Linked DNA regions of Homo sapiens. The protein of the gene in region 2 purifies or fractionates together with the protein of the main gene of each other region. This does not show direct contact. Each region holds a gene or a part of one and is shown on either strand. Other genes may lie near its edges.

Evidence for each region. The genes of interacting proteins can lie anywhere in the genome.
Region 1: the proteins of ELAC2 (region 2) and TSN fractionate together in Homo sapiens (co-fractionation; one large-scale study listed by BioGRID). This does not show direct contact.

What each region holds. Positions count from the first base shown.
Region 1 is NC_000002.12:121,762,151-121,765,650, reverse strand, and holds part of TSN (translin), read right to left. Parts: intron 2,647-3,500; coding exon 2,567-2,646; intron 518-2,566; coding exon 284-517; 3' UTR 1-283. UniProt on the Homo sapiens protein: DNA-binding protein that specifically recognizes consensus sequences at the breakpoint junctions in chromosomal translocations, mostly involving immunoglobulin (Ig)/T-cell receptor gene segments.
Region 2 is NC_000017.11:13,001,028-13,004,527, forward strand, and holds part of ELAC2 (zinc phosphodiesterase ELAC protein 2), read right to left. Parts: intron 2,548-3,500; coding exon 2,452-2,547; intron 1,553-2,451; coding exon 1,414-1,552; intron 1,333-1,413; coding exon 1,247-1,332; intron 1-1,246. UniProt on the Homo sapiens protein: Zinc phosphodiesterase, which displays mitochondrial tRNA 3'-processing endonuclease activity. Involved in tRNA maturation, by removing a 3'-trailer from precursor tRNA.

The sequences.
Region 1 (3,500 bases), on a different chromosome or scaffold from region 2:
AGGACTTTACCAAGAAACTAACATTTACACTTTCTGACGGAACTGAAATACACTGAATTACAGGCATATTCACTGAAACAACAAAAAAAATTCTGTCCATGTAAAGGCTATATTTTTTACCCCCAAAAAAGTGTTTCAATTCTGATACTCACACCACAACTGGTTAAGAAAATAAAGCGCAGTGTTTAGCAACTGAGCATCCTAACTACCGTAAGAGGCACTCTGTGCTCACCCCTTCCTGGCAACCGCTGAGGTCAGCAAGGCCAGGAGCAAGGAGAGCCTCCTATTTTTCAACACAAGCTGCTGCCGTCTCCTTATTAAAGCCCCGGATGGAGAGATCATAGACCACTTCCTCTACTTTCTTCACGTCATATTTCAATCCGTCGTAGCGCTTCCTCAGGGAGTCATTTTTCAGGTTGAGAAGGCGAAAACCGGAATCCAGCTCATTGATGAAGGTGGAGATGTGGAGGGGTCGGGAGTAGTCTCCAGCAGTCACGCTGTTGACAGACAGCCTCGACTGTACCAGGAAAGAGAAAACAGGGGCTTGTTACAACATGGCTCCTTCTCAGCGCATCTTCCTCTGAATCACAACCAGAAGAACCGCAAGCCTAGACAGCCACGCTGATCTTCTATCTCAGGGTACACACAAGTACAGACAAGACAGGAGCTTCTCTGAAAAGAATCCCACTGAAAATGAGACCAGTTCTGCCAAGTAAAATTTAACATTACTAACATCTAAAATTTCTCTAATTTCTTAAACTGGCTATTGCATAATAAAGTGTTACATTACACAAGCATCTTTACAGCTCATCTGCTATCATATCGAAGAAAGAAACGACAAAATAATCACAGCAGCTCCACTACCTCTTCCAACCTTGGCCAAATGATCACATTTCTAGAGCCCACCTACTAAGCTGCAACTCCAGTCACCTAGAATCAAGTAAGGCAGACTTGGGATAAGAATCTAAAATTATGTTAGTGTAACCCTGTCTTGAAGGAGAACTAACATTGATTTCAAGACCCAACCCAAGACTCCCCTTCTCGGTGTCAGTATACAACCCCCTACTGCTCCATTTGACTGGCTTTAAAAAATATATTAAAATAATAAAAAAGATTCCCCTTTCTGTAAAATCCTCTCCACTTTTCCAGGCTTACCCCTTTAGTGCACTGTCAACATACGGGTTTTTTGTTTGTTTGTTTGTTTTTAATATAGAGAAGGGGTCTTGCTTTGTTGCTTAGGCTGGTGTGGAACTCCTGGCCTCAAGGGATCCTCCCACCTTGGTCTCCAAAACTGCCAGCATTACAAGCGTAAGCGACTGTGCCCGGCCCCAACATGTATGGTCCTAAAGACACCTTACACTTAACTAATACTAACAAGATGCTTCCTGTTTACTGGTCAGGTGTCTCCAACAAGCCAGACAAGTGGTACAGCCTACAAGTGGACCCCATCATCCATTCTCACCATCTTCCTCAGGTTTTCAATGCACACATACCCACTCCAATAGACTCCATTTCTGCCTCCCTGCAGGCAAGGCACCAGAATGTTAACAGAAGTTGTGTGTACAACTTCAAAGAAATGTCCTTAAAGCGGGAGGGCATACCATTTTCCCTATTTCCTCCTACTGCTGGCTAGAGTGAAGATGTGACTAGAGCAACAGTTCTGGAACATAAGAAAGAAGCTGAAGCTAGAAGAACCTAGGGCCAAAGATCAAGGAATCATCAGACCAGCCCTGGACTGCTTTCCTCTGGAGCAAGGACAAGCAAACTTTTTCTTAACGAGCCAGATAGTAAATATTTTCACCTCTGCAGACTGGCACAGTCTCTATCACAACTACTCAATTTTGCTACTGACAGCTTTTTTTTTCTTTAGACTTTTACAGGGCAATTTCCCTAGATAGTGGTTAAAGGAATAAAGGATAAGAATAACTTAGTTATATAGACAAATGAGTGTCCAAAACAATTACATGGATTAACAGTTACCAGGAATAAATGTTTTGCCACTACCCTAAAAGGAAGAGGTCTTATCATCGGTTAAAAATTCTTAACTCAGTAAGTATGCACTCATCATTTGATCTGGCTTTTCTCTGATGCCTAGTAAATTGTAACACATACAGTGCCAGTCAGTGACTACCTGGTGACCGAGAGATGGCTTAGAAAAGAATTAAGACGTTCTGAATTTTGGTACCCATTTTAAAAACAGACAGTGGGCCAGGCACAGTGGCTCACGCCTATAATCCCAGCACTCTGGGAGGCCAAGGTGGGCGGATCACGAGGTCAGGAGATCGAGACCATCCTGGCTAACACGGTGAAACCCCGTCTCTACTAAAAATACAAAAAAAAATTAGCCGGGTGTGGTGGCGGGCGCCTGTAGTCCCAGCTACTCAGGAGGCTGAGGCAGGAGAATGGCATGAACTCGGGAGGCGGAGCTTGCAGTGAGCCGAGATTGCGCCACTGCACTCCAGCCTAGGCGACAGAGCGGGACTCTGTCTCAAAAAAAAAAAAAAAAAAAAAAACTGACAGTGAAGCAGAAAGATCAAAAAAGCAACCAGCAAGTTACTGAGCTTACCAGTTCACTGGCAAGAATTAGAACTCCTGAGAGATAATCTTCTACATCCAGATGAAATCCTTTCTCCCGATCTGGCTCAACTAAAAAACACATGAAAATAAAGTCATGCTGTGAATGCAAGTTAAGCCTCAGAATATAAAAATATACACATAATTTCTCCCAAAGTAAGTGAAGAAAGGATGAATCTTTTAAAAACTGGCTTTTTAATATATTCACAACCTTGGCAACTAGACCTCACTATGGATTTTTTGAGTTCTTAAGCAAAATTCAATTCAGTCTTCCCTCAAAAATACTATCAAAAACAGTATCTAGTTGTGTCACAGAATATACTTCTTGTTAGAAAGCACATGATAAAGCATTTCAGAAAGGAGTTACGATATTTGCAACTTTCAAATGGCTGACAAAGACACACACAAAATGAGAAGATTAAGCAGATGTAGCAAAATGTTAACAAGTGGTAAATCTAAGTGGCATGTAAACAGGTATTCATTGTACTATTCTTTCAATTTTTCTGTAGGCTTGAAATTTTTAAAAATTCAATTTTAAAAACTAAAGCAAGTGCAAATGTGTTTGCCATTGTTATTTTTAGCTTTTACATTTCCAGGTAGAGTCGGCCCTCTGCGCTAACCAACTATGGATAGAAAATATTTGGGAAAAGGCCAGGCGTGGTGGCTCATGCCTGTAATCCCAGCACTTTGGGAGGCCAAGGCGGGCAAATCACGAGGTCAGGAGTTCAAGACCAGCCTGGCCAACATGGTGAAACCCTGTTTCTACTAAAAAAATACAAAAAATTGGCTGAGTGCGGTCACTCACGCCTGTAATCCCAGCACTTTGGGAGGCTGAGGCAGGCGGATCACCTGAGGTCAGGAGTTCAAGACTAGCCCGACCAACATGGAGAAACCTCATCTCTACTAAAAATACAAAATTAGCCGGG
Region 2 (3,500 bases):
TCAACCCCGTGATGTTGCCTGTGGGCCCGAGTCTTGCTAGTATAGTCTCTTAAAGGGCCCCAACTACCCAACCTCAACAGCACACAGCATCCAGTCATAATCCAGCACATGCTCTATTCTAATACAAATACTGTGGAGTGGGCAGGAAACTTAAAATCAAGGTTCAGATCCTTAAAAATTAAAACAGGCCGGGCACGGCTCACGCCTGTAATCCCAACACTTTGGGAGGCTGAGGTGGGTGGATCACCTGAGGTCAGGAGTTCGAGACCAGCCTGCCAACATGGTGAAACCCGTCTCTGCTAAAATTACAAAAAATTAGCCGGGCGTGGTAGCAGGCGCCTGTAATTCCAGCTATTCGGGAGGCTGGGGCAGGAGAAATGCTTGAACCCGGGAGGCGGAGGTTGCAGTGAGCTGAGATCACGCCATTGCACTCCAGCCTGGGCAACAAGAGTGAAACTCCGTCTCAAAAAAATAAATAAATAAATAAAATAAATAAATTAATTAATTAAAATAAAGATGTGGGGCAGTAAGGCTGTTCACTTTCCTGGTTGGATTGTACTGGAAGAGGCTTTCAAGATGGCATCTTACATTTATCAAGTACCTTAACAAGTCTCACACTCTGGGCCAGTAATCCCACATTTAGGAATGACTTGAAGGGAACAGAGTTCCCATCAAAGATTTATATATAAGACATTTATTGTTTCATTCATTAAAAACAACAAAAAATTGGAAACATCCCAAATGAGTAAACATCCCTATTTGGAATACCAATAAAAATCTTGTTACTTAAGACTGTTTAGTGATACAGGAAAAGACTGACAATATAAACCCACATACACAAATCAAGAAACACAAAATGTTATCAATCATTATCTCTGGGCAACAGGATTATGGGTGACTTTGTTCATCACACATTTCCTATTTTCTATACTGTGAAACACACGAGCTCTATCACTGCTATTCCCATGCAAGGCAATTTTGGAAAAGGAGAACTACTGGCCCCAATCCGCCCACCTCAACCCAGCCTGGAGTAGGCTGCTTTTCTAAATAAATTCACGCTGGCACACAGCCAAGCCCATTCATTAGCTTATTGTCCGTGTTTCTTTTGTGCTCAAAGCGGAGTTGAATAGTTACAACAGAGACCATATGGTCTGGAGAGCCTCCTGGAACATTTACTATGTGGCTATTTACAGAAATGTTTCCCAACTCGACTGAGACGATTCCATTAGTTCAAGATGGCACAGACCTCTGCCACTCCCTCCTGGGACGGAGCTGGTACTTGAGGAGGCATTCACCCTGAACCATGGGCACACTGAGGGTGGGGCCCTCCTTCTGAAAGAGACAAAACACATTCATGGAGAGAAAGAGAGGGGACGAGAGCTGGGCCGACAAGGGGCCGGTCTGAGACACTACCTTACAGCGGAAACTGGTGAGCAGGGGGAAGATGTCCGGGTGGATGAGGTTGAGCTGGGTTTGAATCTTGTGGCTGCGAAGGTTGTGAACTGAGGCACAGTTCTCATTCAGGACCAAGTGCTGGGTGTCAGGCCCAAACCTGTGAAGAAACAGACCCGGCATTTGCAGCGTCTGTTAGGAGGCAGCTCCCCCTGAGGAGTGGTGCTGAGCTCAGGAGTGGTAATGAGGATGAGGTGTTCAAACAGTTCAGTGACTTGCCCCAAGCAGTGTTACTACATGGCCAAACATGGTCCCACTCCTGCTGTCTCAAAGCCCGGTGTTCCCTAGCTCAGCTGCCTTTCAGGTGTGCTGGGAAGAGTGAGAGGAAAAACAAGAAAAAGAAGATGTCCAGGGCATACAAATAGGGGACCCAAACCCTGAGGAATGAAAGAGACAGCAGGAGAGCAGGCCATGGAGTGAGGGGCAGGTAAACGGGCCATGTGGGGAGATACGGGCAGGGGCCAAAAAGCAGCCCAAGGTCACCCCGCACCCGAGCTCAACTCATACTCCTCCACCTGGCCCTGGCCAGCGATGCCCCGAGGAAAAAGATGCCTTCCAGTGACTAAACATCTACCTCCCAGGGCTGCTGGCGACGACCCTAGAGGAAATGAAGTGAAATGAAGGGTATTTCACACACTGCCTCCCACAAAGTGGGCATTCAGTAAATGGAAGCTATCATTTTATAGCTGCAATCTCTTCTTTGGAATTCACTTATGGAATCCTCAACCAAACGGCAGTATTTGTTCAGACACCCTGAAGAGTGTGGAGGGTGTAAAATAAATGGAATCGTGTGGACACTGCGCCACCTAGCGGTGCATTTTCTTCACGAGTGTAGCACAGATCTGGGAAGCCTAGAATTCTGGGAAGGCAGGAATCCCACAGAAAGTTTAGGCAGGTGCAGAAGGGTAGGTAGCGCTGGAAAGAGCACGAGGGGAGGAAAGGGGAATCCACCACTGCCCAGAAGAGTTACCCCAAGTGCCGCTGGGCTGGGCTCCATACCTCTCCATCCACTGCTGGTACCTGCTGTCCACAAGCACAGATGCTGGGGCCATGTGAACCACCAAGGCCACGGGGGCATCTGCCTTTCCTTGGTACCTGGGCAGAAGAGTGGGGCTTTACAAAGTGATGCAGACTCAGGACACACCAAGACAGGGACCACGCAGCCAGGGAGGGGTATCGTGCGGCCCTCTGCAGCACTGCAGTGAGCTGACAGCCTCCACGCCCAGGCCATGCTCTCACAGCAGGCTGCTCACGGCAGACCCCGGTGCTGGGCCATTTCCAATGGACGTGGGATTCCTGTATCTGGCAAGCTCTGCTCTGGGCTTTCCAGTAGGCCTGGCTGATCCTTTCTCAGCACTGCACTTCCTTCCTACCCTCTCCACTCATACGGGTCCAACCTGCAAAGCCAGACCCAGGCTCTCCCTGCCTCCTCCTGCTCCCTCTCTCCTTCCTCTCTCACAGTCAAATTTCCTCGAATAAACCTCCTGCACCTCCAATGCCACCCTGGTGTCTGCCTTCCAGAGGACCTGAGACACAGGCACGAGAAATGAAAATCATCTGAAATTTCACCACCTGGACAACAGACCACTTACTAACATGCTGATGTGTTTCCCTCCAGTTCCCTTTAAAAAGAAATATACACAGTAGCTATTTTTATCTATCCCAGCATCATCACACATCCACACATGGCTCTCAAATGACACCTGATTCATTGAAGAGGTTTTGCTGCCCAAAACTGGATTAAAATACAAAGCCGGGGCTACCAGCGCATCCAAATTCACCCACAGAGAATAAAGCAGACCATGAAACAACTCCTAACGCTCTGACTCGGAAGGGGTACAGCAGCCCAAAAGGATTTGTTGTGGTAAGTAGAAAAAAACAAGTGAAAAAATACAGATAGATACAAACTAGGAACAGGAAAAATACAGGTAAACCATTAAGAGTGGGGGAAAAGATTCAAACTCAGATAGGTGGGTCAAAGATGATTCCATCTGGAATGAAAGCTGAACCGCAAAACTGGTTAACTTCGATAGAGGACAACAACAGAG